Homo sapiens: one gene and its partners. The protein of the gene in region 2 interacts with the protein of the main gene of each other region in a biochemical or structural test. Each region holds a gene or a part of one and is shown on either strand. Other genes may lie near its edges.

Evidence for each region.
Region 1: the proteins of ACVR1B (region 2) and INHBA form a complex in vitro, tested with the Homo sapiens proteins (one study listed by BioGRID).
Region 3: the proteins of ACVR1B (region 2) and BAMBI form a complex in vitro, tested with the Homo sapiens proteins (one study listed by BioGRID).

The regions. Positions count from the first base shown.
Region 1 is NC_000007.14:41,691,612-41,701,884, reverse strand, and holds part of INHBA (inhibin beta A chain preproprotein), read left to right. Parts: intron 1-1,367; 5' UTR 1,368-1,510; coding exon 1,511-1,898; intron 1,899-7,796; exon of another isoform or gene 7,797-7,966; intron 7,967-10,273. UniProt on the Homo sapiens protein: Inhibins/activins are involved in regulating a number of diverse functions such as hypothalamic and pituitary hormone secretion, gonadal hormone secretion, germ cell development and maturation, erythroid differentiation, insulin secretion, nerve cell survival, embryonic axial development or bone growth, depending on their subunit composition.
Region 2 is NC_000012.12:51,945,597-51,955,919, reverse strand, and holds the start of ACVR1B (activin receptor type-1B isoform a precursor), read right to left. Parts: upstream 4,222-10,323; 5' UTR 4,177-4,221; coding exon 4,086-4,176; intron 3,226-4,085; exon of another isoform or gene 3,149-3,225; intron 2,537-3,148; exon of another isoform or gene 2,421-2,536; intron 1-2,420. UniProt on the Homo sapiens protein: Transmembrane serine/threonine kinase activin type-1 receptor forming an activin receptor complex with activin receptor type-2 (ACVR2A or ACVR2B).
Region 3 is NC_000010.11:28,669,584-28,680,541, forward strand, and holds the start of BAMBI (BMP and activin membrane-bound inhibitor homolog precursor), read left to right. Parts: upstream 1-7,937; 5' UTR 7,938-8,314; coding exon 8,315-8,390; intron 8,391-10,958. UniProt on the Homo sapiens protein: Negatively regulates TGF-beta signaling.

The DNA of each region.
Region 1 (10,273 bases), on a different chromosome or scaffold from region 2:
TTCCTTTGAGGGAAAAAGAAGCAGTCAAGGAGGCTGTCTATGAATGCACTGGTCGGGACAGGCTTGGGGCAAGCTGAAAAAACTACCACATGACAGAGAAAAATAATTTGCCAATATATTTTAGAGAGTCTTTTCCCATAGGACCAGTTATTCAAGTCATACGAGTGCACTCTTTTTATAAAAGGATGTGGGAAAGGCCAAGAGAATTTTGCATTTTATCTGTGAAGTCCGGCGAGTGGTGGTAGGCTGTAATGTGTGAGAGTGAGTGGGTCCCCGGCAGAAGGGGGCAGCTGAACGCGACGGGGAGAAAGCGCTTCTGGAACTTGGGCTTGTGACAGGCTGCCTGCCCTCTGGTCCTTCAGTGCCCTGCTGCATTTCACAGTTGGGAAGAGTGGAGTGTATTATATGACCCCAAACAAAAGTTCCATTGCGCTCTCCTCAGATTGCCTGCCAGTGTTGATGACCTGAACATTTAAATATGAATGAATTGGGGGAAAGGACCATCTCCCCTGGATCCCATCAGGCCAGAACAATCCTCTGTTACCCCTGAGTCCCTCTTCCCTGACCTCCACTACCTGTCCACTGGACCTCCCTGCACCCTCTGCCCCACCACGTGGCCAGGTGGGCGTTCTACCACCTAGGGCTGTGGCTTGGCTGGGTGGAGGGGCGGTGGGAACACTTTTTCAATCAATTCATCCCTATTGATTGAGACACTGTGTTTGTTTGGGGTTTCTTTTCTCCCCTCCAAAAAAGGAAGAAGGTGAAACCAGGAGACTGGGCAGAGAAAGAAAAAAAAATAGTGAACAAAATTAGGATAATTTATTTTAGAAGAGAAAGTAGAACCCCCGAAAATGGTGATATTTGAAGAGAGGTGTCTGTGAGGAAGCTAAGAGCAGAAGGAGAGCAGCCTGTCAGAAAACGGGCTGTCCCTCCCTCCCTAATCACAGCCCTACTCACAGCAAACTCCCTCCCTCTCCATTCACTCACTTACTTAGGGCCAATCCTTTCTCTCTCTCTCTCTCTCTCTCTCTCTCTCTCTCTCTTCCTTTCCCTCTCTCCCTCTCCCCCTCCCTTCCCTCCCTCTCTCCCTCTCTCTCCCCCTTCTTTCCCTCTCTCTTCTCTCCCCCTCTCTCCTCTCTCTCTGTCTCTGTCTCCCTCCCATCCTCTCTCTCTGTCTCTGTCTGTCTCCCCGCCACCCTGTCTCTCCCTCCCTCCCTGTCTCCCTCCCTCCCTCCCTCCTTCCTTCTCTCTTACTCGGAGACAGTCAGAACTCTCCTCCCTGACAGCCACAAACCTACAGCACTGACTGCATTCAGAGAGGAACCTGCAAACAAAACTTCACAGAAAACTTTTTGTTCTTGTTCCAGAGAATTTGCTGAAGAGGAGAAGGAAAAAAAAAACACCAAAAAAAAAAATAAAAAAATCCACACACACAAAAAAACCTGCGCGTGAGGGGGGAGGAAAAGCAGGGCCTTTTAAAAAGGCAATCACAACAACTTTTGCTGCCAGGATGCCCTTGCTTTGGCTGAGAGGATTTCTGTTGGCAAGTTGCTGGATTATAGTGAGGAGTTCCCCCACCCCAGGATCCGAGGGGCACAGCGCGGCCCCCGACTGTCCGTCCTGTGCGCTGGCCGCCCTCCCAAAGGATGTACCCAACTCTCAGCCAGAGATGGTGGAGGCCGTCAAGAAGCACATTTTAAACATGCTGCACTTGAAGAAGAGACCCGATGTCACCCAGCCGGTACCCAAGGCGGCGCTTCTGAACGCGATCAGAAAGCTTCATGTGGGCAAAGTCGGGGAGAACGGGTATGTGGAGATAGAGGATGACATTGGAAGGAGGGCAGAAATGAATGAACTTATGGAGCAGACCTCGGAGATCATCACGTTTGCCGAGTCAGGTTGGTGCTGGCATTGGCAGGGGGTGGGGAGGGGTGGGGGGTGGGAGGGTAAAATATATTTCTTTGACAGTCCCAGGAGGAACTTCTTTTCCCTTCAGCTGGAAACTGCCTGGGAAGGTTATTAGTTATTAGGTGATGGTAGCGGACTAGCCGACGGAGGGCAGGCAGGGGAGGGGGAGAGGACTTTACAGAAAAGGAATTCTCGGTCGAGCTCTGCCTGGAGATGACTGGCTTACACTTACTAAACCCAGCGGGTCACACAGAGAGGAAGCTCGGGGCCAATGTTGAGCTGGAAGGCAGACTGTGAGGGGCTGCCTTGCCCTGCCTGTGAAACCAGATCTGAGCAGCCGGAGGAAAGCCGCGGCATTTTCGGGTGCTAGGGGAGCAGAGGAGGCTTCCGGACCCCATCCAAGTTTTTATTGAGGGTAGAGGGGTGAATGTACCAGGATTGGAGTGGAATGGCACAGATGAAGTCACTCTCTTAAAACAAACCTTCCCCTTTAAAAGTCCAATCTGGGGCCACATTGGAGAAGCAGGGCATATTTATGAGTGACAGTCATTTTTACCTTTAGAAAATGTCTATAAGTGCACAGGCACCACATTCAAGACAGGGAAGAGCTACTTTGGGGGACAGTTGTCATTGAACCAGCAGTTACTTTTGGGACACTGACTTTTGCTCTCTGAAAGAAAAAAAAATAAATAAAACAACCAGTTTTGTTCTTTCTAAAGTTACTAAGAGCTCTCTGCCAAGGAACGCAACCTTGACAAAGTACTCTCAGATACTACGCTGAACTCACTCAATCCTTAAGAGGAAGAACTTTAATAAATAGATTCTAATCGTTGGCCCAGGACCACACTAACCTGTTGCTGAATAGCAATACCTGTCAAAAGTATGGGCCCATGGACTTGGAGCCAGGCTATTTTTATAGTTAAGTGACACAGATCCTTTGCATGCCTGCAAGCCCATGCACGTCAGGCACACAGATGTGTTAATACCGTGTTACTTTCATGGTAATGCCAGGCTAAAGAATTGCATCCTTTGCCAACTCCATTTGAAAGGAATGCCATTGTTTTGTTTGGTAGAGCATATGGCCAGTAAAGTATGTGCAGGGACTCCCAGCATTTTTGTTTAAAAGTTTGCCGCAGCAGTATAAACAATTAAGGCAACACTCAGAATTTCCAATCTGAAAACCTGTTGACTCAGATGTTCTGTTTTCAAGAAAACCATGAAAGACCAGGGCATCTTTCCGGGGGTGCAGATAGCCTGCTGGCTGTGTGGCTTCCCCTTGCAGGAGAAGCCCTGGTGTCCTACAAGCTTCCCAGTTTGGCTCTCTCACCAGAAGCCTCTCTCACTTAGGGAAGATCCTACTTTCTTTCCCTAAAGCTCTTTCTTAACCCAGCCCCAAAAGGCATGATCATTAGGACTTTATCTTCTGGAGCTTTTTGAGGAAGAAAGCTAGGTTGGAACTTTTCAAGTTGACACCCATTTTTTTTTCTCAACTTTTCATGGTGGGAAAAGGTAAAAAAGAAAATATTTACAATATTTGGCTGTGCATGTGAAACAGATTTCAGTGGTCTAGAGGGTTGCTTCCTGTCTTTGTATACCAACCTCCACACATGATGGATTCAATGACAGCTCGTATCCAGTTGCCTTTAACCATGTCATATGACTAAGTATACCTATGCCTTTGACCACTTTTAACCGCACTACCGTTACTAGCAATATGCCCCTCTTTCTGACTTACTGGACTTGTATAGCAAATCACTCTCTTAGCATTTAGAGATTTGGCAGTGAAAAAATTTGACCATTTACATTCTTTCTTATGTGTGGTCTTCCTTTCTGTGACAGTCTTCTCTCAGTTGTATGAGATCTTGTCATTTTTTTACTTCTCAGTTAGGTGTTTAGTTTGAAAAAAAATGAGCGACTTTTGAAAAAGCGATTCGTTGGACGTTCACATTGAGTCAAGTTTAAGATTTGTAATGGGAAACTCCTGGTTGACTTTACAACTTGACTTTGGATTCTTAGAAAACACTTATTACAATTGCTTATTTTTCTCTGAGGGATTTCACACATCAACTTCAAGTTGATTTAATGTAATTTCATGTATTTAATGATTGCTGTATGGACTGTCTACTCTTCAAGCAGAAAACCACGTGAGCATTTTGCTGCTGATTTTGCTAGTCCAGAAAAGACATTTATCATCCAAATGATTGTAGCAAATATATGAACATGAATAGAAAAGACCTATGTCTTGTTGCTTTTGGAATAATTCAACTTTAATAACATTCCAACTATGTGGAATGTCAAGAGTTTTTGGAGAATAGAAAAAGGAATGCATTTTTCTTTCCCTTATAACCATTTTGTGCAGCATAGAATCCAGACATTGTCACCCATGAGCATGCCACAGATGCAGACCCATAGCAGCCCCTTTCAACCTCAAGATTCTTCAATTTGAGGCTACGTTTAATTTTTGCCTTTTCTCTCCTTGATTGTTGGATAAAGCCAAGGCCTGGCTACAGAAGTAGAGAGCCTCCAAAAGCTGAAGTGCTGAGGACTCTTTTAACTGAGTTTGTCCCATCCTGTTTAGGTAGAAAGTGCTCAATTTTTGTAAAGTTGATGCGAGTTGTTATTGACTAAACAGCAGGGAATCACTCTAAGGCTCTCTGAAATGTATCCCAACAAACAAAAATTATTTTATTTTTATATATGTCACATCACCCAAGATTTCTCACCAAGGTTAGTGTGTTCTTTGCATGGCTGGCACAAAACCCTCAATGTTTTACCTTAAGGCCTACAGAGTTCTTCACAAGGAAAGATAGAAGGGATGGGTAAAGCCAAGCTATCACTATAAATGTCATGAAGCTAAATTCAGTGGCCTTTTCAGCTGATGCAGCTTATTTTTATTTTATTTTGACTCATGACAGTAGGTGGTCAATCAATGCATAATAATAATGTACCTCTAAGTCTCCATATGCTGTCAAACCTGGATGTGGGTTCTGGTAATTAGCTTAGCAATTGATAGCACTTGTTGTAGAAAGAATAGGGAAAGAAAGACAAATGACACACCAAGAAATGGATGTGCTCACGTAGCCTAGGTGTTGTTAAGCGCAACACATAAGTCTACCCCTTGGAGGATACTATGTATGGAAGATTTGAGTTAGAAGTTTGCACTGCCCAGACAGGGATCCAAGAAGCTTTGCTTGGATGACCATTTTCCCCACCCCAAGAAAGCCATCTCAAAATGAAGCTGACTCCCACCATTCCAATCCCACCTTCCGAACTTTTCTGTGAATCACCCCTCCTTTAGGGATGCCTTTAGGGGTTACACGCTCTCTTCCGTGAATAATGGGGAAGAGCGGCCACAAGAGGGCGCGTTCCAAAGACTTTTGCTCCTTGTCAGTGTATCCAGGGAAAGGCAGTTGCGCGTACTGGAAGCCCCTGTCTGTAGCGCCCTAATCTTGGTGATTATCAGTTACCGCCTGCTCCCTCTCATCCTGCAGAAAAAGTTAGGAATTTATGAGATGGGAGAAGCATGACTACCTGTAATACATTAAATGAGACAGAAGGAAAGGAAATGGAAATTCTAGTGATACATGTGAACATTCCGGAGCTCTATGGAAGGCAGACGAGTGATAAATTTCAAAAGCAAACAAAGCGGAGCAGGGAGAAATGTGACTATGAATCATCAGCGATACTGATTTGCTCACAAGTCTCTCCCTAATACGGTCTCCCGGGTCGTAACAAAAACATCTTCCATCTCCCCTGATTTTGTTGCCTAGTTTTCCTGCCTTATCAACAGTTTCCACCAGCGACAAATGACAAGTGACTTCAAACAGGGAGGAAAAAGGTTCTTTCTGTAATGCCTTGTGGGAACATGGTGTTCGGCTTCTGAGGATGCGTTTGTTTCCGAACTGAGGGTGTGGAGAGAAATGGTGGGAAAGATGGGAAAAGAGATTAATAGTGGTCTGCGGCCTGTGCAGTGGATGGACTGGGCTGGGGGTGGTGGAGATGCCAGGGTGGAAAGTCCGTTGTAATATTTAAAGAACTGCAGTAATACCTTCCCAGGCACTTTTCTTGAAAACACATATTTGTCTTGGCCCCTCTTCTGCTAAAAAATACTTGCACGTGATCTCCTAGCTGTAGTTCTGAATTCTTCGTACTCGACTGGTTCCTAAGTCCAAAATGAGAAGTGCCAAAGTTCTCAGGAACTTTGGAAGAAGTCTCTGAAATTTTGTGGGTTAAACCTTAAGAATTTTTGCTACTTGTAGGAACCTAAAACCCCTTTCTCCCAAAATATTTAACCTTTTTCATCACCACTTTAATGGAAGAGGCATGGATGATGGACGTTTGTGCCAGGGCATTTATAAATCAATAATGGACCCTAAGGAGGGAAATTAAAGCTAAAAAATTAATCAAGATAATTTATGGCCAAACCTATAGTTCTACTGCAGGAAAGATCCTCTACTGTAGGTCAAAGGAGGAATAACCTTAAGACCTCACTTGCTGCTTTCTGCAGAAACCCCTGGAAGCAGTCCAAATGCAAAGTTAGGGCTTCAGAGAATGCACCCTGTAAATGGTAGTTGTGTATACCCTTACCATTGACTATACCATATCTAGGCACAGTGAAATCTTGATGAAGAATGGAAAATTAAAGGAACAGACGCTTTTTACAGGGAGGCTTCCCCCAGCCCCCATCCCATGGTAAGTTTAAATGTGTTCTATAAACAACGAGGCTTTCCACATTCACATTAGAGACATAACTATTGCCCATATGTAAAAGAGCAACATATTTTAAGCAGGACCCTGGTGAGGAAAACAAAACCAAATCGAAACACTGCATGTGTGTGTTGCTTATTTAACTGAAAATGTTCATAGACCCACAAATCTGAGATGCTGGACTTTTGGATGAGTCCAGCATTTTGCATCTTAGTGTAGGGGGAGGGAACAACAAGGGGCTTAGTTGCTTAACCCTTGCCATGCCTTCATGATTGACTTATTCAAAACATTTTTAAAATTCTGAAAGCAAAGGAAAATGTGCTGCAAACACCCTTCCAGCTATCTTTCCTTCCAGCTTACACAGTCTCTCCTCTGTCCAATCCTTCCCACCCAGCAGCATTTCAGAGGTATTCCCTGTGAGGTACAAAATTTCTCTTTGCCCATTTTTCTGCACCTCTTTTTCTCTCTCTTTGGTATGTGTCCACCAAGCTCATAGAGGTTTAAGTGATGAAATATTATCACCCACATGGGTTTGCGTGGGACTTTCTTAGTGAATTACTCAGGCAGAGCAGGCTGTGATACAGCCTTGCTCACAAGCCTCGGGAGGGAAAAAATAGCACAGAGGATGAAAAGAATATTATTAGAGAGCAGGTAATGAAAGGTTCGCAAAGCAACCAGCTATATCTGGTTAGCTAGGTAATAGTGCAGGAACCTAGGTCGCACCTGTACAAACTAATGCAGAACCTGCTCACGGCGCACTATGGGAAGACATTCATTTCAAGAGTTTACAGCATGAGATATTTGAGTAAAACCTGAAACTGATTAGAAATTGATCCTGAACATCCCAGCCTTAGTCAACCTTCCCTTTTTCAAATTGTTATGCATGGAGATTGGAGGATTGGGGCATCTTGAAAGTGTCACTGCAGTATAGCAATCTCTCTCAGGTAATATAGAGATAAAGGGAATATAATAAATTGACCTGTTATTTATTATCTTTTTCATACCTAGGACATTCCGAGGCTTAATATATTTCTGAAGCCTACAGCCCTGATAAACATCAATCCCACGTCAGTTTCCAGCAGTCTCATCTCCCCACACCCTTCTGCAATGAAAGCTAATGTAAAAGAAAGAAATATGCACTGCTTAATAAGTCAGAATACAATAGAACTTGTAAAATGTACCTGCATATAAGGTAGACATTAGGAAGACTTGAATCTCTCTCTTCCCCCTGTTCTCCTGAGCATTATGGCAACAGCATTTTCATGAAATTAGATCTGTTTTATATTTTTTCCTGATAAAATATCATGCAATATACAAATAGCAGTTCCAGAAATGGACACCAGGAGAAGGAGGCGACAGGCATGTCAATTAGTAGGGGGAAAATCCAAATGTCAGAAATATGGGGGAGAGAGAAAGCACGCAGGCAGTGGATGCAAATACAGGGAACAGAGTCTTTCAATTCAGATAATTAAACGGATGCATAAATCAGCACCCTTGCCTCTCTACAATACGCAGGCGATGCCATGCAGTTAATTATCAGCCAAGACCAGCATGAAAGTCATTTTATGATGACTCTCTGATCCTAATATAACAGCACCTGACAGATTGAGCCCCCTCTAATGAGTACTCTCTTTGTACAATCCTCTCTCAGGAACACTAAATCATTTGCTTCCAAGTACAGCTGCCTGTGAAGAAGGGGTGGGGCTAGATCATGCATCAGAAACCTGCTCTTGTGAAATCAGGGGCTGTCCTGTAGGCTGTGTGACTGGAAGCCAGCAGCCTCAGCCTCTCTGGCCCTAAAAAAGCAATTTGCACACGGCTGTCCCTAATTCTAGTCAGCCAAGTAACCCTCCCTCGGCACCCCCACCTAAACATCTGTAGTCAGCCTTGGGTGTTATTCATGGAAAGTCCACTGCATGCGGGTCAGCACTGCTGTCCATCGGCTTCACCCTGACCCCTTCTGGCAGGTGTGGATGAGAGTAGAGCAGAGCTCATGGGGATGAGTTACCCCAAACCTATTAAGCCTCCCTATCCGGGGCACTAGTCAGACACTCCAGTTTTACACTCTTTCCTAGAAAAACAAAACCCAACCTTGTGCCCTCTGGGTTCTCTAATTTAGCAGCTACTATCTGTCTGTTTTTGGAGTGACACCCTGTGCAGTTTAGGATTTCAGAAGCTGTCCTGCATAGAGGCAGAAGGGAAAACAGCAGGTATCTTGTTAACATTCTCTATGGGGCAAGGCAGATGTGCCCAAGCTGGAGGAAACCTGCACACCCTCCAGGCTAGTTATCCAAGGCTTGGGAGGTTTCCCTCGGCCTTCTCCTAAGGCCTTGGCAGGACCCTGCCACCCTAAAATCAACTGCTGATTGCCTTTTTAGATTTAAATGATTAAGCTCTGCTTATGGGAATCTTCTTCTCTTTTATTTTGTTAAGAAACAAACAACAACAACAAAACCCACACCAATTCTTAGCAAAGGGGAATATCGAATTCAGATTTTGAAAAAATAAGTCATCATGCTTCCTAAAATAAGACAGCTTCTCCCTCTAACTGCTCTCTCTGCTCTGGTATTCTATCTAATCATAAACCCAGCTTTATTATTCATTTCAACTCCTGCCAAAGACATGAGGTCGGAGTCAGAGGAACTCCCCTTACCACCGCCACCATCATCATGGCCAGCATCCTCGTAAGTTTATAGAAAGATGCCAGAGAACCTTTCCTATCCATCTGCAGCCCTGCTTGGCCCTTGCCTCAGTGAATTTACCACTATCATAATCACAGTGTGCAGAGTGTGTTAAATTAAGAACAGAATCCACAGTACGCAATGCACAGAAAAGCCTGCCTTCTGCTGCAGAGAACTTGAAACTGTGCCTAAAATTTATAGTACCGTAAACATCTCAGGGCCTCGAGTGATAAGTATGGCTGGATTTCCGTTAACTATAGAAATCCAGGCAGGGAGATCCTCCCAGGGAGTTGCAAGTTCTAAGATGAACTTCTTGAAGATTGTTCCCAGATTTGTGCATGGGATACATGTACAGCAGACAGTTGTAAGGAGGTCCACGGTCATGGAAAAGAGGATATGTTTCTATATGCCACCAAGTGGGAAAAATGGAAGTGAGGGAAAATATTTGATTAATCAAAAAATTTTAGTTTGGATACCTGCTTTCATAGTAATTGTTGCTGTGTCATTAAACATACAGTTGCTTAGGAAAAGAGAAGGAAATAGGTGACTTTCTAATTTTAGAGTTAGGCTGGAACTGAGTGGTTGCTAAATTCAACTGCCCTGACAATGTGGGGATTTCCTGTCCATTAGCAGCGATTGCTATTTGACATATGTTTCTGGTGCCCATTAATCTGCCCTGTAATGGGTCAGAGGCAAAAATGGGGGATTCAGAGGTACTAGGTGGCTCTCTTAATTTAATAGAACTCAATGCTAAGGACGCCTCTATTTGTTAATAAGTAATCAAGTCATTGGCTACTTTCTGCTAAACACTAGACTATGATAGTGACCTTAGACCCCGGGCATTCTAAACCAGGCTGGCAGGAGGGTGGTGGTGGAGGTGATGTGAGGTAAGCCTCCTAGAGGAACTGTCATCCAAACAATCTGAAAATTGAAACATTATTAAAGGCAGCACTAAGGGTGGTATGTTGGAGTTGGGG
Region 2 (10,323 bases):
TCTGAACCTGGCCATGAGGCAGTGCCTGCAGAGTGAGAGAAATGTAAGTTGGACTTAAAAGGTTCCCGCATTCCCAGTCCAAGTGGAACTGATGGGCTGTGGCTGCCTGCAGTTATGTCCAGCATCAGAAGCACTGGTGAGAAAGGACTCTAGGATTCCCTTTTTATGAATACAGAGAGGAAAATGAGATTAAGACCCTCTTACACCAACTCCTACAACAACAGCTAACACAAGAACTGAAGACAAACAGGCGAGATCCCAGAATTAATGTTCACTGCTACTCTGAGCAAAAATTGAACAGTAAACAATAGAGATTTCAAAATTATAAAGAGCCACTTCAGTATTCTAATTTAACCTTCAAAAATTAAGATGACCTAAAGCACCACGAACTGATAATTCCATTCCACCTCAACACCCTGTGCTCCTCAGCTATTATGAGAACAGACTGCAACCCAATTCAACTCATGTTCCAAAATGCAACAAGCAGCTTCAACAGGACATGCTGGAAGAAGCAGCACGTCTCATCGTTTACTGATTCATATTTTGGTAGCAAGGTTACAATTAGCTCACCGGTGGAGAATAAACCTATTTATAACACAGCAGTCCACCTGAAAGACATAATCATCTAAAAAGGTTCTTAGAGGAAAATAAGTGCAGGTTCTTCCTGTACTGATTGCAGATTCCCAAGGTCCTTTTGGATAAAGTCCTCAGTCTAACCTTCCTGTGTTCACAGTCACCATTCTGGCCACTTCTCAGCCTCCATGTTCTTATGTAACATTTACATAGTGCCATAAACATACCCAGAGTTGCGTAAGAATTAAAACGTTGCCAAACCAATAAAGCCTAAAGCAGGTCACTCCCTCCAGACTGTCTTTGATTAGCACAGGTATGCTGCCTAGTCGACGATGTAAGAGCCTGCCAGAGACAGAAATTAACTTGAGGAAATCTGAAAGGGGTCTACAAAAAAGCACAAAAAGAAAACCACACTGTGACATGCTGTACGTCTATCAATCACAGAGTATGTTTTTCTGCTCCTTAAGATAAAAAAGTAACCCAGCATTGCTTATTCACTGAAGTCAGAAACTGTGTCTAAAAATACCTCCCCGCCAACTGGCTATCAGTAAGTCAGTCTCACAAATGTCCCAATAAGAGTGACACAAAATATTTCCTTATTTTTACAGAGGGAAAACTGAGGCAGTCACAGAAAGGTTAAGTTACTTGTTCAAGGACAACTTGTAAGGCAGCTAAGTTCTAGGGCTGAAAACCAGCCTCCTCCCTCCATCTGGCTTTAACCTTTAACCAGAGTAGCCATTTTAATATGTTTTATCACATCTGTTCCAGGAGCTGTTTAAACAAAACTAATCAGAGGTCTCTACAAGACTGCACTTCCACTGTACTTAAAATCCATGTCCACTCAACAAAATTACAAGGCTTGGCTTGAAATTAGATTTTTAGTCCGCTCACAAAATTTCAAAATGTTCCTATGAGAATGTCAAATATCTCTCTTGTTGCTTTTGTCTTGAGAAATGAATGTCATGTTCTCCTGCTACTAACTCAATTTTACATTTTTAAATGTGAAAATTCCAAAGCCAGGCCTTAAAACATGTACACCTATCAAACGGATGCTATTTCTAACTGAAACTCATTCTCCTTATCACTGGCCTTTTACTAAGTCCTAGTTAATTCATTAATTAATAGAAACACCTATCCCTTACTGCCCCTCACATCAAGTCCAAGTATCAGGCATCAGAGCTGTCTGGCTCTGTCACTCCTCCAGCCCACGTAGGGGAGCACTATATAGGAAATGCAGGGGAGGGGAAAAAAATCAACTTCTTGTTATCCCACAGCCTCTATTTTCCCAGAACTGACGTTTTACTTTAAGCCCTTTGCAGCAGTGGTCTCCATAGCATACACTATTGGCAACTAGACGTGTCCTGGAAAAAACTGTAGTGTCTGGCCAAGAAGTTTAAAGGCCCTGGAGAATGTTTGCTGGACACACAACCTAATTTCCAATTTACCAAAAAAAGAAACGAACTCCCTATTTTACTCACCCACCTTAACCCCCACAAACATCCATTTTAGGAAGGTTACAAAAAAATGAACTCTGCCCCATTCAGAACCACTTGGATTATCAAACATTCTTAACTAGGCTCACAACCAGAAAAACCCCACAAACACTACATCAAATCAGCAGGGAAATGACTGTTAAAAATCCTGGATATATTAGGGGCAGGATAAAAATTCCTATATGAGGATTTAAAGATTTATACATACACACATAAAATGACAAACCTAGAGGTTCAATCTCCCTTTTTTTTTTTTTTTACTACCCAGTAGAGAACATTATGTTACACATTCCAAAAACATGGCCCTTAATAAGGCCCGACGAACATCCTTATTCATGCAAATCATTATCTCACCACAAATGTCAAGCTCTGTTCATACACCTTCACCATGTTTCTCAAACCCCACAGCACAGATACCTAAGCCACAGAGCAGTGAGGCCGAAGAACACACACGAGGTGCTTAGGAGAAGCATTAGCCCGTGAACAAAGACCCCGCTGCACAGGCTCCACCACTGGGAACAAATATCAAAGCCGGAGATAATGAACTTGTTTTTGAGATTCCAAAGTGGCATGGTGTCTTTTCTTGACTGTCTGGTTTATTAAAGACGACTGAACCCACCTGAGAATCATTATTTTTAGTGTAAGAGAAGAGAGCCACAGAACACACTTTATCTCCCATTGCTGGAAGGTTAGGGGCTGCTGAGAAGTCAAAGCATCAGGCTTTGTACGTCAGGAGCGAATACAATCCTGATCATCTCTCCCAGATCCATCTGTGGGTCAATAATCGCTTCAATATAACTGCCAAATATAACCTTCATCTGCTACCCCAAGGCCAAAACACATTCGCCAAGACTCTCTTAAATGAAATATTTTAGGGTTTCATCTGCTCTTCTCAGCCCCCAAAGCCTCAAAAACAACACAGCCAGCGAAGTGTCCCGCAAAAAGGTACCCGCTTCTACAGAGAGGAGAGTGGGGGGGTGGTATAAGGCGAGCCGCAGACTGTGGGGATTGGGAGGTAAGGGGTGTGTGAGGGTGGGCGGGCTGGGAAGAGGCATCGTGTAGGAAGGTAAATAAGTACTGACCAAGGGCCGGGAATACAGTCCAGTGGTGGGATCTTTAAATAATCTTGGGGGTTTGGAGACAGGTTCCAGGATTTCACCTGAAAGGCATCCACAAAGTGATTAACTGAATGGGCCCCCCGGGGTAGGGTGGGGGAGGCGAGGAGGAAAGCAAATACACCTAGATTCACATCAACCCTTGGGGAACTCGGTTCCATAGGGTTAGGGATTCCAAAGCCAGGCTCCAAAAAGGTTTAGGGGCCTGTTCGTCCCACTTCCTCCAAATAGCCTCCACGGGGCATGAGTGCCGGAGGGCGGAGGGGGGATTGCCCCACTGAACTCAAGGGATTGAGTGAAGGGGAAATGTGACTCCCTTTCCCAGAACATTAGGGAGGCAGTGGAGGGAGGGGAAGAAACACGCCAAGTGCAGGACCTGAAGGAAAGGTTAGAGACCCCTTCCCCTACAGTCTGAGGTGCGCGGACTCTCAACATCAGGTTCCCTCGGAGAGGCTAAGACCCCACCGCCCGAACCCCACAGTCTTGGCGGGAGAAAGACGCCCCCCAGGAGCACCTGGAGGGAGGGAAGAAAGCCCCCCGCCCCTGGACACGGTGAAGGGCAGAAACCACGGACCTCCAAATCTTGGAGCTGGAGGCTCAGACTCCCCTCTCTGGAACACGAGGGCGCTGGGAGCGCGACCCCTGAGAACTGCCCGAATCCAGTTCCGCCTGGAACAGGGCTCGGGTCCCCAGGGGCCCGGCGTGAGCTCCGTCGCCGCCGGGCGGCTGCGCCTCGGAGATCGGGGAAGCTGACTGGGGGTCACCCCGACTCCTCTGCGCCCCCCACCCGGCCATATTGTGCTCGTGGGGAGGGGGCGCGCTGTAGTCCAGCGGCCGCGGCTCGAGGCCTCGCCCTTGCCGGGCCCTCTCCATCCCGGCCCCCGCCCCCCGTCCCAGGACTCACCCTGGACCCCCCGGGGCCCGGACCCGCCGCTGCCGGCGAGCAGGAGGACAACAAGGGGGAAGAAGGAGGAGGCTCCGGCCGACTCCGCCATAGTAACCACCGCCGCCGCCGCCGCCGCCGCAGCCCAGCAGCGCCCAGCGCGCGCGCGCGCGCCCCCGGCGCCTCCCCTCCTCCCGCGGCCCGGCTCCCGCCTCCCTCTCCTCCGCCCGGCGCCTGCACGTGCGCTCCCGGCGGAGCCGGCGCCGCGGCCGCCGCGCGCGCCCCCGAAGGGCGGGGCCGGGGCGCGCGCGGGCGCCCGCCTTAAAGGGGAGTGTCCCTGTTAAAGGGGTGGGCGGGGCTCACGCCTCGGCCAACTTCGCGGATCGGTGCCGAGCCCGGCGCGGAGGAGGCCGGAGCCGAACGTGCAGTCTCCTCCCTCTCCTGCACCCCACGCAGTGCAGAATTATCTTATCAGAGTCGATCCCCCGCCCCCGTCGAATATTCTACGAATCCCGTGCGTGTTCCAGTTCCTCCATCCCTGCGCCTAGCCTCAAGCCCCCAGCGCGTCCCCTGGGATCATCGCCGCGGTCTCCTAACTGGTTTCCCTGCCTCGCCTCGCCCCCTGCCATCCTCTGGACGCGGCAGCCTGTGTGATGGAATCGCGGCACGCGCCTTTTCAGAACATAGCAAAGCTCTTTATTGATGACAGTATGGGTGAGGGTGCCGTGTGAGGCACTCTGATTGGGCTGGTAGGTAGAACCCTTTTGGTAAACAATTGGCATTATGCATCAAATGCCTTAAAATCTTCATATCCATTTACCCAGTATTGTCCCCTGTCCTCAAGAAATAATAAGAGGACAGATGTTTATGAAAAATGTTAACTGTATATTTATCATTGTAAAAAAGGTAGAAACTAAGTAGACAATAATAGAAAATGTTAAATTATGGCCCATCCATATGATGGAACATTATTTAGTAATTTAAAATCCTGTTTACAAAAACTATTGACATGAGAAAATGCTTACAAGATAATGTTAAATTAAAAAAGCAAAATGCAACACTGTTTACAGTATTATTCAAATTGTACTGATAATATGTGTTTATAGGAAAAAAAGACTGGAAGGATATTTACCCAATAGTAACAGTAGTTATTGCCATAATTTTTTTACTTTTAACATTTCAATAATTTCTAAATATTTTTCAAATAAATGTTACTTTCAAATCTAGAAGAAATGCTTAAGAAAGTAAACAAATCACTCCGTATCTTTCTGAAAAGAGGTCAGTTTCTTTAGCTTGAGAAAGAACTTGATATAAAGGAAAGGGCAGAATTTTTGCAGCCAGAGAATTCTGGATCTGAATTCTGCTTCCTACTAACTAGCTGTGAAAACTTGGGCAAGGTTTGAACCTCTCTAAGCACAGCTTCACCATCTGAGATCTAGGGGTGGAAAGGATGGCCAAGAGATAGGGAGAACAGTTGCTTAAATGGAATTCTCACCTTCTAAGTTTCACCAACCTGAAGAACTCCCATCGTCATATCCGGAAAAAATAAAGCTGAAGACACACTCGCCAGACACAGTGTACACACAATCACATAAAGTCATGGGGAGGCATTGTCTACAAGTTGGTCAGTGTAGCTGGATGAGTAAATAACTTATTCTCCTCTCCCTCATCTCCCCCAAATAGGCACACCCCACCCAGTCCGTCTAAGTGGTTTCCAATCCATGCTCTATCCACCAAGCTGTGGTGCACACAGTGCTAGGTTACTGTGTTAGTTTCCTACTACCAAACTGGGTAGCTTAAAATACAAATGTATTCTCTCACTGTTCTGGAGGCTAGAAATCTGAAACCATGGTGTTGGCAGGGCCATGTGCTCTCTGAAGGCTCTAGGGAAGAATCCTTCCTTGCCTCTTCTAGCTTCTGGTGGTTCCCAGGATCCTTGGTGTTGTTTGGTTTGCGGAAGCATAACCCCATGTCTTCACATGGTTATCTTCCCTCTGCATCTACATCTCTGTCCACATTCCTCTCTTCTTATAAGGATACCAGTCATTGGATTAGGGCCCACCCTAATCCAGTATGAGTGCAAATGATCTTAATTGGTTACATCTGCTGCTAAGATCCTCGTTCCAAGTAAGATTACATTCGCAGGTTCCTGGTAGACACGAATTTTGGGTGGACACTATTCAACCCAGTACAGTCACCAACCCCTGCAGTTAAGAAGGGAAAGCCAACCCCTCAGGAGCACATATCTGAAGCCAGGGGGGAGGGAGGTATCTTTCCTTATTTCTTGCTAAGTGCTGCCACTGTGGCTTCGAGGCCAGGGGTCCCAGAGGGGACCTGTGGTTGCTTCACTCCTAGACAGTAAAGTCAGCCACACAGCTAAATATACAGATCAGGGAACCAGAATGCTGGCTCCACAGACCAAATGCCACCTCCGTCAGCTCCATCAGCTCACTTGACAGCATTGAACTTTGGGCAAGATACTTTACCTCCCTAAACCTCAATTTACTCATCTTGTAAAATGGAGCTAATAATAGTTCTATGTCATACAGATATTGTTAGTATTGATAAAATATGGTAAAGCATTTAGCATAATCTCTGACACATAGGAAGTGATCTAAAAAGAATAGCTATTATCATCATTATGAGTTGACCTTCACTACAATCCTAGGAAGTGGTTGAGGCATGTCAGAGTGTGCCCCGATGAAGTGACTGAGACTTAGAGAAGGTAAGCGATTTGCCAAGGCTCACATACAATCCATCATTAAAGCCACAGCCTACTGGTCCTGTGCTTTCTTCAACACCATAGCATCTCCTGCTTTTCTAGGTACTGGTCTTCAGGACCCAGCTGAAGGTGGAAAATGAGGTGGAGCAGGGGAGGGGTTAATCATATGCCTCACACCCCATTTGTGAGAGTTTGGGGCATCTCCAAACTAGAGCTTTCCTAGGTGATGTGTCTACCTTCCTTTTAGGTCCCGCGCTACATAGAGACTGCCTAATCCCTACCTGTGCCCTTCGCTCCTTCCCACAGCCTGGCCCAAGGATGCTTCCTGCTAGTTCTCCTCACCATCCCTGAAGGCCCCGGTAAGTGTCCATTTTCGTAAGCCTTCTTTTTTTTCTTTTTCTTTTTCTTTTTTTTTCTTTTTTGAGACGGTGTCTCGCTCTGTCTCCCAGGCTGGAGTACAGTGGCATGATCTCGGCTCACTGCAACCTCCGCCTCCTGGGTTCAAGCGATTCTTCTGCCTCAGCCTCCCAAGTAGCTGGGACTACAGGCATGCGCCACCATGCCTGGCTAATTTTTGTATTTTTAGTAGAGACAGGGTTTCACCACATTGGTCAGGCTGGTCTCGAACTCCTGATCTCGTAATCTGCCTGCCTCGGCCTCCCAAAGTGTTGGGATTACAGGCGTGAGCCACCGTGCCTGGCCTTGTAAACCGTCTTAATCTTAGGGCTGGACCCACATCACAGTCTATGAACTTCTTTTCCCCTCTGCCCTGTCTCTTTGTCAGGAGAGTCCCCAGAGCTAGCAGGAGCCACTTCTCCAGGAAAAAGTCTTACTCCTTAGTCCCACTGACTAGAGTGACAACTCAGTGTGACAATTGCCACATTGGTCGCAACGCACAGAGACACCACTACCTAGGGGATCATTTGCCTTGGTGAGCAGCAGGGTCATTCATCCCAAGAAGGCAATAGTTCATCTTCACTCATCCATTCCACAAGCACTAAGCACCTACAGTACACCAGGCACAACATATAGACATGGATAAGTCATAGTCCTCGCCTTCATGGAACTTAAAATCTAATACAGAAAAGCATGAGAAAAAGAGCAACAACGGGTTATCTCTGCGAGGACACAAGCCTGTAAAGAGCCAATGAGGGCCACTCAGGGGACATGAATGATTCAGCTGTGAGGGGACAGGCTGAGGAGTTGAGAAAGTTTTCACGAAGAGACAGGCTACGCTGATTCTTGGAAGATCAGAGAGTCCCCCCAGATAGGCCTGTGTCAGGAGGGCAGGAGATGGCAGGAGACTGTTCTGCCTGGCATTTAGGAGAACCGTGAGCAGCCTAGCGGTACACCCAGAAGATGCAGGCTGAAGATGATGGACAGTGGAAACGTAATGTTGGTGAGCTAGGCAGACGTGGAAGTCTACTTGGAAATGGAGCACACTGGAGTGGGAGTCTAATAAGAGACCCTCTTCAGTACACTTGGAAGGGTTCTAAGTGTAAATTGATCATGTTTGTATTTTAGGAAAGGCTAAACTGATCATATTTGTAAACTGATCATATTGTGTTAGGAAGATCACTTTGCTGAACCAAGTGAATTTGAACTTTGTACAGAGGCTGGTTGGAGGAAGACAAGACTGGTTGTAAGGAAACCAAAGAGAAGGCAAAGCCCAGGCAAGATAGGAGGTGGACCTGACCCCAGGCAGCAGCAATGTGAAGGTGGAAAAGAGAAACAGATTCAAGAGTTCAAAGACGTAGAAATGACAAGATTGATTGGATACGGGAAATGAGGAAAGGGGATGGCCCCATATGACTCTAGGATAATCTTAGGTGACTAGCTGCCTGGTAGTTTCATTCAGCAGACTAGAATGGGCAGGTTTGGGAAAAAGAAAATTAGTTCCTTGGCTGGGCGCAGTGGCTCACGCCTGTAATCCCAGCACTTTGCGAGGCCAACGCAGGTGGATCACCTGAGGTCAGGAGTTCAAGACCAGCTGGCCAACATGGCAAAACCCCTAAAAATACAAAAATTAGCTGGGCATGGTGGTGGGCACCTATAATCCCAGCTACTTGGTAGGCTGAGGCAGGAGAATCACTTGAACCCAGGAGGCAGAGGTTGCAGTGAGCCAAGATTGTGCCACTGCACTCCAGCCTAGGCGACAGAGACTCCGTCTCCAAAAAATAAAAAAATTTTAAAAATGTAAAAACTGAGTTCCTTGTCAGGCATACTGAGTTTGAAGGTACCTGGAGCCACAGAGATGTAGATTTGGAAGTTAGCAGCATATCATTGTTGTTCAAACAGCTCAAGGGAGCAAGAGAATTCTGGAAATACAGCAATACCAGCAAAAAAGAAGACAGAAGGAACAGTGATAGAAGTAGGAAGAGAACCTGGGAAAAATAGAATAATAGAAACCACGGCAAGAGAGGCTTTCAAGAGGCCCATAGTTTGTAATGTTGACAAGAGGTCAAGTAAGATGAGGAACAAGAGTCTCTTAGGGCTTTGGTAACTTCTGATTGGTGACGTTTACCTGAGCAGGCTCAGTGGAGGATGGGGTGAAGGCCTAACTTCAGGAGGCTACAAGTGGGGGTGAAGGCTTAGAAACACTGAGTATCATCTATTATTTAAAATAACTTGGCTATGATGGGAGGGGGAAATTTGGATTTCCTTTGGAATGGTAAACCAGGTTCCTTGAGCAAATCTTCGGCTGAAAACAACGTAAAATGCTCAGTAAACTAGCAAGAAAGTGAATACTCAAGTAAAAGACTAAGAATCAAAGAGGAAAGCTAATCACCAAAGCTGGCTTTTCTGTTCAGAGCCTTTGCATACGGGTGAGCTCGGACTTTGGTTTTCACAGGCAAGCAGGATATAGGGGACAGGAGACAGAGCTCAAGCTCATCCAAAGTGGGAAGTCTAATAACAGATCCTGTGCACAAGGCTGTGACCCACAAAGGGTAATACACATCGTCTAAGGAGGGACCAGAAATAATTCACTCCTCAGGCTGGGCGCGGTGGCTCACACCTGTAATCTCAGCACTTTGGGAGGCCAAGGCAGGTGGATCACCTGAGGTCAGGAGTTCGACACCAGCCTGGCCAACATGACGAAACCCTGTCTCTACTAAAAAAAAAAAAACACAAAAATTGGCCAGGTGTGGTGGCGTGCACCTGTAATCTCAGCTGCTGGGGAGGCTGAGGCAGGAGAATCACTTGAACCTGGGAGGTGGAAGTTGCAGTGAGCCGAAATCACGCCATTGCACTCCAGCCTGGGCAACAAGAGCAAAACTCTGCCTCGAAAAAAAAAGAAAAGAAAAATTAAAAAGAAATAATTCACTCCTCCAGGAGACTACAAGGAAAACTGCCTGACTTAAACCTTGGCTCTTGAGATCGCACCATTGCACTCCAGCCTGGGTGACAGAGTAAGATTCTGTCTCAAAAGAAAAAAAAAACAAAAAACAAAAAACAAAAAAACCTTGGCTCTGAGTGAGAATGGGAGAAAATATCCCCTGAGAATTCATAACGGCAAGCTGGCCTCCATGATGTGAT
Region 3 (10,958 bases), on a different chromosome or scaffold from region 2:
TCAGGTATGACTTGAAGGATTAGGAAAGAGAGAAGTACCAGTGCCCCTTCCCATCATTCCTACAGATCTTTGTTAACATTAGGCAGTCACCTAAAAAAAAAAAAAGGCAGGTGGATTAGAAGCATTTTGAGGGCAGGAGCCGTTTCAGAAATCTCTTGATCACCCCTAAAAAAAAGGACAGCTCATGAGTACAGTTCATGGCAAGTGTATCCATAATTAGTCAGGATTTTCTTGGGAAATGCTTCCGTTTGAAAGTGAATAAGCAACATCAGACTTCTTCGAAAAATGCCATTGGATAGGAGATGGGTTATCTCAAGGTGTCACGTTGCAGGGTGGAAGAGTTGTGTTTTCCAGCAGACTAGAGGCACGAGTTATGGTTCCATGAGAGCAGCTAAGTTTCTTGCGTAATGATAAGTTAGGCGACCAATTTGTCTCAGCTGATTCTTGGACTATCACCAGTCATGGGAGCAAACGTTTGTTGGCAAGATTCCGCGTTTTTAGAGAGATACCACCACCCTGCCCAGGCTGCAGTCTGACTTGGCAGTAACATTATTTGCACTTCAAATCTTCAGCTCCAGGGAGGAGAAAATCCTGAAACCACCTGGGAAGTCCTGAAGCCATCATAAATACATTCAGATATTACAAATTTTTTCCTTAGACCGATTTCTAAGGAAAATTGGTCACCATTTCTATAGAGATTCACAGTTAACAAAACTTACACGAAGACCTCAAGTTGTACTAGTAGCAATCTCTGGAGCAGGCAGGCTACCAAACACTCTTGTTCTCATTTTATGGGCAAGAAAACTGAGTACCAAGGGGCCAATTGATTGGCTCATAAAAACTCATTGAGTATACTGGGCGTGGAGGTTCATGCCTGTGATCCCAGCACTTTGGGAGGCTGAGGCAGGCGAATCACTTGAGGCCAGGAGTTCGAGACCAGCCTGGCCAAAACGGTGAAACCCTGCCTCTATCAAAAATACAAAAGTTATCCAGGCATGGTGGCAAACATCTGTAATCCTAGCCACTCAGGAGGGTGAGGCACGAGAATTGCTTGAACCTGGGAGGTGGAGGCTGCAGTGAGCTCGCTCCACTGCACTTCAGCCTGGGCAATGGAGCAAGACTCTATCTCAAAAATAATAATAATAATAATAATAATAATAAAATAAACAACCAGCTTGGGCAACATGGCGAGACCCTGTCTCTACAAAATATTTAAAAATTAGCAGGGTGCGGTGGCATGCACCTGTAGTCCTAGCTACTGGGGAGTCTGAGGTGAGGGGATCACTTGAGCCATGGTGGTGGAGGCTGCAGTGAGCTGAGATTGTGCCAGTGCACTCCAGCCTGGGTGACAGAGCCAGGCCGTCTCAAAAAACACACAAACAAAACATTGAGTAATGGAGTGTGGATACAAATGCAGGACTTCAGTTTCTTACTTTAGTGTTACTTTTTCCTTGCTCTGTTACCCAGGCTGGAGTGCAGTGGTGCGATCTCGGCTTGCTGCAGCCTCCCCATCTCTGGCTCAAGGGATTCTCCAGCCTCAGCCTCCTGAGTAGCTGGGATTACAGGCATGCACCACCACACCCAGCTAATTTTTGTATTTTTAGTAGAGATGGGGTTTTACCGCGTTGCCTAGGGTGGTCTTGAGCTCCTGGATTCAAGTGATCCACCCTCCTTGGCCTCCCAAAGTGCTGGGATTATAGGTGTGAACCACCTTGCGAGGCCCAGGGAACTCTTTTTATATACTCCTGTCATTTAATGAGGAACAACTAAGTGGTATGGGGTGGAGCCAAGTGGATGGACCTCCAAGGAAACAAGTGACTACTTTGACCCTTTGGCTGTAATATTGATGGATTTTGCTCATGTATTCCATACAGACTGGCAAGCAATGCCATTGCTCATAGACATTGCATCATGGGCATCTTGCCTGCTCTTCCCCCCGCCACTATATGTGGAAAATGCCAGGTTGACTATTCACTCCAAATACTCACCTTTCTCAAGAAACTAATAAAAAGCTCTGCTCGTTGCCATGGCCCCACTAAGAAGACAAGATGTTCAAGATTGTTGTATATTAAAAATAATCCACGAGTTCAAAATGGTCCTGGACTCTGGAAAGTCTTGTACTCTGCAAGGTTCTGAGTCTTCAGTCTGTTTAAAATGGGCTGTCTTCAAATGGCTACATTAAGTTATTTTAGATGATAGCAAACACTCAAGTGATAAAGTCACACAGAAGTAATAATTTGAAGGAATGATTTTTTTTTTTTTTGAGACAGAGTCTCACTCTGTTGTCCAGGCTGGAGTGCAGTGGCGCAATCTTGGCTCACAGTAACCTCCGCCTCCTGGAGATTCTCCTGCTTCAGCCTCCCCAGTAGCTGGGATTACAGGCATGTGCCACGATGCTCGGCTAATTTTTATATTTTTAGTAGAGATGGGGTTTCACCATATTGGCCAGGTTGTTCTCAAACTCCTGACCTCAAGTTATCCATCTGCCTCAGCTTCTCAAAGTGCTGGGATTACAGGCATGAACCACCGTGCCTGGCTTGGAGGAATGATCTTAATTCCACTCACTAATCACTTCTCAGCCTTTTGGCTAAGGTCAAAATTCACTCACTAATATATTTCTTTTCTTTTGAGATGGTCTCTCTCTGTTGCCCAGGCTGAAGTGTGGTGGTGTGATCTTAGTTCACTGCAGCCTGGAACGCCTGGGCTCCAGTAATCCTCCTACTTTAGCCTCCCAAGTAGCTGAGACTACAGGCATCTGCTACCGGGCTTGCTGGTCTCAAACTCCTGAACTCATGTGATCCTCCCACCTCAGCCTCCCAAAGTGCTAGAATTACAGGTGTGAGCCTCTGAGCCTGGCCTACTTTATTTTGCTTTATAGGTGAATTAACTTTATATAATATGACATGCTTTATGGTGCCAGCCTGCCCATATCTCTTTCTGTGTGTTCTTTCTGGCTCACACCCTTGCTGAGAGCAGTACCCAGGTTTTATATTAGCCAGAACCCTATCCAAGCCCAAGAGATCACAGACTGAGTATTTGGGGATGGTGTCTCCGTAAGCTGAACAAATGACTGTGATAGTTTGCAGTAGTGATAGAAGGTGAAACCATCTCTTGGGTAGTATCTCTCTGTATAGGGGACTCATGCTTGGACAAAAAAAAAATAAAAGCAGAAATTATGAGAGTAAAAACTACAAATAAGGAGAGGATGACAGCCCACTGGCAAAGAGGTGAGAAGCAAAGACAACCCTGAGAAAAAGAGGCCCAAGTCTCTGGCTTCTGGCTCCAGGAAGGTTGGCTCCCCGAGCTGATAAGCGGTGCTTGTCAATGACCAGTTAGTAGTAACCATACCATAAGCCTATTTTGTCCATACCACAAACCCCTCCTAAATTAATCTTTAGTGTGTCTCTCTTCCTTTTAATTAAGCAAGTTGACTAACGATGTACTATAAATGTTTTATTTTTATTTATTTATTTATTTATTTGCTATTATGTTCTGGCCACTGTCATTGTTTTTATTTCATAATAATTCCTGAGAAAATAACTAACTATATAGTATTTGTTTTATCATTTACAAAGTATCAAGACACACATTATATTTGATGTGTGAGTTCAAGCCATGAAATAAAATGCCAGCCAAACGTGCATATCTTCAAATATTTAATGCATTTTAACGAGATTTATGGACACAGGTTATGAAGAGAGTACACCCTAAGTGAGGTCATCAATGAACAGAATTCTTGTTCTTATCCTTGGTATTAAGGGAAGAACTTCTGATGCGCTTTTCTCAGATTGTATAATCTTCCTTTGTTCTATCTGGTCACCTAACAAATAAGCTCCTATTCTGCTATGAATCCCTTAAACACAAATAACTCTCTGATAAGATAGTCAAGCTCACACCTGTAATCCCAGCTACTTGGGAGGCTAAGGTGGGAGGGTCACTCGAGGCTAGAAGTTTGGGACCAGCCTGGGCAACATAAGGAGACTCTGTCTCAACAAAAAGTATAGAAATTAGCCCCATGCAGTGGGGAGCACCTTAGCTACTTGGGAGGCTGGGGCCAGTGGTTCGAGGCTACAGTGAGCTATGATTGCAGCGCTGTACTCCAGCCTGAGTAACAGAGGGAGGCCTTCGTCTCTAAAAAAGCAAAAAAAAGCAAGTAACTCTCTACTCTCCCATTCACAATTTAGTGCCATTTAGTTACATGTTTAGCCTATAATTTCAAAGACATCATTTAAAATCTTTAAAACATCTATACGGCCAGCATGGTGGCTCACACCTATAATCCCAGCACTTTTGGAGGCTCAGGCAGGAGGATTGCTTGAGCCCAGGAATTCTGAGACCAGCCTCAGTAACATAGGGAGACCACCATCTCTACAAAAAAATTAAAAAATTAGTCGGGCATGGTGGCTCGCGCCTATATATATACATATATATCTCCCATGGATAAATTATATCTTGAATGCTGTTTGAAGGTAATAAAAAACTATTCTACTGTTTAACGGTTTCAGTTAGGTCTAGAATCAGTTTTCTGTTCTTGGGTATAGAGAGCTTGTTCCTAGGTATTTTCGGAATCCCTTTGTAGATGTAAAAAGAATTTTGGTCGTTGATTTCATTTCTTGCTTTAAACTTCAAAAGGACAGTAGATTGTACTATTTTTTTTCCCTCTACTTATCAACCTACATGTAGGAAAGTAATAACTGAATTATGTGCAAAGCATAAGTAAAATTCTCTAGAGAAGCAATTTTCCTTAAGAATGTTAAATTGAATTAAAATTGTTGCCTATTCTCTCAACTATTGATATGGCCTTATGATTGACACATTATCCCTAAACTGATTTTGATATTCTACATTGATTCAAACACTCTGATTCATTTAGTTGAAAAGTCCATGTCTTCCCCAGAACCATTAGATAAAGTGCGGACTTGTTTCTCTTTAATTTCTGGTCATTTAGAAAGTTTGCCCATTAATAATAAAAACAAAATAGTTGAAATCATTGTCTAAAAAATGGATCCCAAGTTCTTATTCAGAATTGGACTTGGAACAAAAAAATATATACAACCTGGAGTGCTCAAAGTCAACATTAATTCAATAAAATACAAATATCTTAGTTTGGTTTCTTTGGGTTGCAAGGAAAAGAACCTTAAGTAAAAAGGGGACTTTATTAAGGTTACTGAATTAACCTAAGGACAAGAAGTGACGCTGAGTGCCTGGAAATCCATTTGGATTTATGTATTTGCCACTTTGCATATCTTCATTATTTTTCTTCCTCTGCAGACAGGTGGACTACAGCTGCCCCAAAGCAAAATTTTTATGTCTCCCGTGAAATGACCTCAAGGGACTGAGCAGCATGTCTGCTCAAAGACACAGAAGAGAGAATCTAACTGACCTAACCTGGGTCATGTGACTAGCTATGGCCAGAGATTAGGAGATCAGAGTCTCCTAATCAGGTTGCCAACGCCCACTCCGGGAAAAGGGACATTCTCTGACTTGGGCTGGGAGACACTCAGAAAGTGTCTACTAGAATGCAACTTTCACCAACACATTCCCCAGACCTCTTCCATTAAATATTTATCTGTATCAAAGGGAAGTATAGTTCATTTCTGATACGTCTCTGTTCACTTCTTCACATTTTATGCTGCAATCACAAAGACTTGCTTGTCATCCCAACTACCTGTTCGCTGCTTACCACTCCTACTCACCTACACAATCATATTTCATGCCTAAGTCCTGTGGTCCTCTGTGCTTGTAATGGTCTTCTTCCAATCCTTAATGTCATTGCTTCTAGACTTTACCGGCTCTCTTTACCTTCCTAGACTAGTTAACCTCTTTCTTTTAGGCATTGTAACATCATGCACATAAATCTCCATTATTGTCCAGCTCCATTGTTTTGAGATTTACTATCTAGTTTCTGACATCTTTATACCCCCAGACATTGCAAGCCTCGCCTACGGTGGGAGGCCAGGTTGAACTAACATACCCTGAAAGTTTCCTTTTAGCTAATAATTGACTCTAAAAGAGAGTGTAATCATTACATAAAAAGTATTGTCCTCTGGGCGCGGTGGCTCACGCCTGTAAATCCCAGCACTTTGGGAGGCCGAGGCGGGCGGATCACGAGGTCGGAAGTTCGAGAGCAGCCTGACCAACATGGCGAAACCTCGTCTCTATAAAAATACAGAAATTAGCCAGGCGTGGAGACAGGTGCCTGTAATCCCAGCTACTCAGGAGGCTGAGGCAGGAGAATGGCTTGAACCCGGGAGGCGGAAGGTTGCAGTGAGCCGAGATCGCGCCACTGTACTCCAGCCTGGGCGACAGTGCCAGACTCGTCTCAAAAAAAAAAAAAAAAAAAAAAAAAGTCTTGTCTGCATAAAACCCTTACAATTGTTAACTTGTCAAGGTTCTAGTAGCCAGGAAGTTCTAATCAAACTCGGCCCCAGGACTGCCTTGTCAGCACGCCCCTTGAGAAACTTTTCTGAGAAACCTGCTGTTTACCTGGTGCCCTAACCAGTTTAATTTTCTTTTAAAACTTCTACTGGATTTCTCCTTCTCTCCTTTTAGATGCAATTTTGATCTAGAGAAGTAATGGTCTGAGCATCAGTTTATGAAATTATTTTATTTTTCTGCACATAAACATTATTTTTCAAAGACAATTTCATTAACTACATCCTGCAGCTCTGCAGACTTTCAACAACTTTAAAAGGTTAGGCGTTTGAGATATGTTCGCCTTGACTTTCAGTCCTCAAGACATATGTACATTTTTCTTAGTCTCAAAGCTCATGTCTGCACTCTAGTCCTAAAGGATTTGTCTTTATAATTCTCACCTTAGCATGAAATGTGCTTCTCTTTCTTTCCTTCCCCACCCCCCACCCCCTTTTGACATATCCGGTAGGGAAGCTCTGGCAGATTCTCAAGAAGAATTTTGCAAATGGTCGACTTTTGTTCATCTCAGGTTTTGGAGGGAGAGGATAAAAGAACATTCCCTCAGATAATGAGTTTTAACCTTAATTCCTTCCAAAGCGGAGGGGGAAACAAAACTACAGCAAGACCACCTTGAGTACCTTGGGAAGGGCAGCCCCGCGATCCCTAATAAATGAATTAGCATCTCAAGGAGGAGATCACTGCGGGGCTGATATTGATCAGGGTCAGCCGGCGTGTTTGCCAGCCATTGTTTGGGGGGTGGTTAATTGAGTGTCAGTCTCGGCCAGTGTCGTCTCGTTGGCGCCGGGTGCTTTTGGATTTGCTAATTTTCGTTAAGTGTCTCTAGCCCGCTACTCGTCCCGCGTACCCGGGAGAACCTAGCGGCTCCTAACGGATCAACAGTCAGTCTGTCTGGGCTTTATTGATCCCATGGCGGGCAGCTCGAGGCGGACACGCTGAGGGGGTGGGGGGCGAAGGCTGAATGCAGACCCCAGCGCTGGGCCGCCTCCCCCGGGCTCCCACCCGAACCCTCCTCCGCCACCTGCACAGGCCGGGGCATTGTCACTCGCCCCTGGGGGTTCCAGAAAACGCAGTGCGGCCGGGGAGGACGACCACACGGACCCCCTGCGTGTTTCGGGGGGCACCCAAAAGAAGCCCCGCGCTGGGGAACGCTGACCACCCGAGGCTGAGCCGTCAGGGTCTCGGAGGCGGGTTCCCGAGCCGGTCCCGGGGCTGGGCTCCCCCGGCGCCTCGCGAAGGTCACTGACGCGCAGGCCTCCGCAAGGGGGAGCGCGGGAGACGGCAGCGCACCAGCCGGGCGCCCCAGCCGGGCGCCCCAGACGCCGGCGCCGCTCGGAGCCGCCGGGCAGGTCCCCCAGCGCTCGCGTCTGGGCCCGCCCCCCGCTGCGGGGCGGATTGACAGGAGCCCGGCGGCCAATCGGACGCCGTGGGGCGGGGCGAGGCGGGGCGGTGCAGGCCGGCTCCCGGCGCGGGGCGCTATTTACGGCGCGGAGCCGGAGAGACCTGGGCTGGCGCGGGCGGGAGCTGCGGCGGATACCCTTGCGTGCTGTGGAGACCCTACTCTCTTCGCTGAGAACGGCCGCTAGCGGGGACTGAAGGCCGGGAGCCCACTCCCGACCCGGGGCTAGCGTGCGTCCCTAGAGTCGAGCGGGGCAAGGGAGCCAGTGGCCGCCGACGGGGGACCGGGAAACTTTTCTGGGCTCCTGGGCGCGCCCTGTAGCCGCGCTCCATGCTCCGGCAGCGGCCCGAAACCCAGCCCCGCCGCTGACGGCGCCCGCCGCTCCGGGCAGGGCCCATGCCCTGCGCGCTCCGGGGGTCGTAGGCTGCCGCCGAGCCGGGGCTCCGGAAGCCGGCGGGGGCGCCGCGGCCGTGCGGGGCGTCAATGGATCGCCACTCCAGCTACATCTTCATCTGGCTGCAGCTGGAGCTCTGCGCCATGGCCGTGCTGCTCACCAAAGGTGGGTGCCGGGGGCGCACGGGGCCCGGGGTCCCGTCCTCGCCGCGGGGCTTTGGAGCCGGCTGCAGAGGCTTTGTTAGCGGCAGGCGAGGCTCCCTCCTGCGCCGGAGCCGCAGGTCGCGACAAGTTGCTGTGTTCTTAGAAGTCGCGGCGGTGGCCTGGCGCGTGGATGCGGACTCCGATCTAAGGGCAGGCGCTGATCAGAGGGTCCTCCTGGCTCTGCCTGCGGGGAGCGGCGCGTTTGCAGCCCAGCGGGGAGCGGGGCCGGAGTCTCGGCCTCGACGCCGCCGCTTCCGCACCCTGGGGGCTCGGGCGGCCGGGAGGAATCGCAGATCCTGGCCTGTAGCTGCCGCGTGCCCTCAGCGTGTCTGTGTGAGTGCCTCAGGGTGTATTTCTGTGAGTGTGTCTCTGAGTCTCAGTATCCCTAAATGCATTTTTGTGTCTCTGAGTGTCGTTGTGTTTCTGAAAGTGTGTCTGAACCTCTGTATCACTCAGCGTATCTCTGTGTCTCTTTGAATGTATCTCTGAATGCATTTCTGTGTCTCTTTCTGAGTCTTTGTGTCTCTGAATGTGTGAGTCTCTGTATCTCTGATCTTGAGTGTGTCTTTCTGAATGCATTTCTGTGTCTGTCTCTAAGTGTCTTTGTATCTCTGAATGTGCATCTGAGTCTCTGTGTGAGTGTGTCTCTGCGTACATCTCTCTGTGTGCGAGCGAGTGTGTGGGTCTCCCTGAGAGTTTAGGTGTCCGAGGTGTGCAGAAGTGTGTGTTGTGTTGCTTTTCAGCAGCCGGGAGGAGTAGGCTCTGTCAGCGTCTCACTGCCACTCACCTCATATTTTACAAACAGGACCAAAAAAAAAAAAAAGGCAGCGGGTCAGTTTCTTCTTTCCTCTGCAGGCTTTCACCTTTTAGAAAGAAATAACCCGAACTGTCTCCGAATTTCAAGGTTCTCCTCACCTCCCTGCTGTGAAATCTACCTACTGTTCTGTGAACAGATAATTTTTTTAAGTAGGAAGCAGTTTAGTCTTTGCAGCCCCCTACTTCTCTTTAATTGCTATGTAGCAGGCATGAGGTTAAAGCATAAGCTAGCCCAGCGAGGATGATGTGCTACAGTATTTATTTATTTTGGAAGGAAGGGTGTAATTAACCCTAAATAACAGCCCTTGTGGCTTGCAGAGGGGAGCCTCCTGGCCCTATCAAAGGCGGGCAGAACAGGGAGGGACTGAGGCTGACATGAAGTCACAGATACCGAAACTATGTGCCTGATAATGATATAATTAGGGGATCAGAGATTTCTGACGGCTGCGGACTTCAAAAGCTTTAAAAGAAGCCAGCAGTCTCTCCTGTAGCCATCTTGACTAAAGCAGACATTTTTGTTTAATCACTACATACAGTAACGAGAAGGGGACAGAAACAGAAGGGCATTGTTCCACAGTTTCAAAATACCAGTCCCCTTTCTGGCCTTTTGCATGCCACAGGAAGAAACTTTATGAACGACAGAAATATAGTTTTAATACAGTGGTACAAAAGTCCATTCTCCTTGCTTAAAATGTGGCTCCAATTAAAAAAAAAAGGTAGTTAGAACTTTCCCAGTTACCTGTCAAAATTTTATTAGGCTGTTTTTAGGTCATTGAAAATAGGCTCTCATAAACATTTAAGCAGCATTTTACTTGTATTCAGTCTTCCTTTTCTGTACAAGGTCTGAAGCTAATAGGGTCAAAATGGGCTTTTAATCTGTTTTATTTATACTTTAAATCTATATATGGAATTTGTCAAACTAGGGATATGTAGTCATCACCCCAGAAGACTGGTGAGCTTTATGTGGAAAATAAAGTGAGCTTGGAGGGAGGAGGAGAAAGAGCAGAGAAGTGGTTCTGCAAAGCAAGGTTCTTACTTGAAGCAGAGAAGGAACTTGGGCCCAACCAGTGCAGATTTAGGAGCAAGACCCCTAGCTTTGGACTGTTAAGGGTTGCCAAAGATCTGTGTTTAGCGGGCTGGTTTTCCTTAGAACCGAAGCATTAGCAGCGTCCGGTGAAAACTGAGCATACAATACCGTGGTCTGGAATTTGGACAGATAATTAAATGAGACACCTTACTGGGGCGTTCAGAGAGAGGGGGAAGAATAAAGGTAAGGGTGGGAAGAGGTTTGTAAAACAGCAGATCCCGGTGTTTAATTTCAGAGTGGAGGTTTCGGATCTTCAGACGGGAAACTGGAAGAGGCGTGTGCATTAGTTTAGTTTACTCGCTGTGGCATGTGACAGCGACCAGGGTCCACTAGGTGGATATTGTATTAGTGAGAACTTGAAGACCCAGATTATTTCAACGAGAAACTGATATTAAAGCCTCCAATCTTGCCCTGCGACAAAATGTGAACGGAGCCATGCAACTCACAAAATAAGTTTTTATAAAGGAAACTTTTAATCACTTCCTGTAGAAAATTTGAGGTTTCCTTAAGGATTTTTCATTCAACCAGCAGAGGATTTTCAGTTTCAGTGTTTCCCCTTTTAGATCACATGTCGAATTACATGTAAAACTTGTGAGGAGGAGGAGGAGAAGTTAGCCTTGCAGTTTT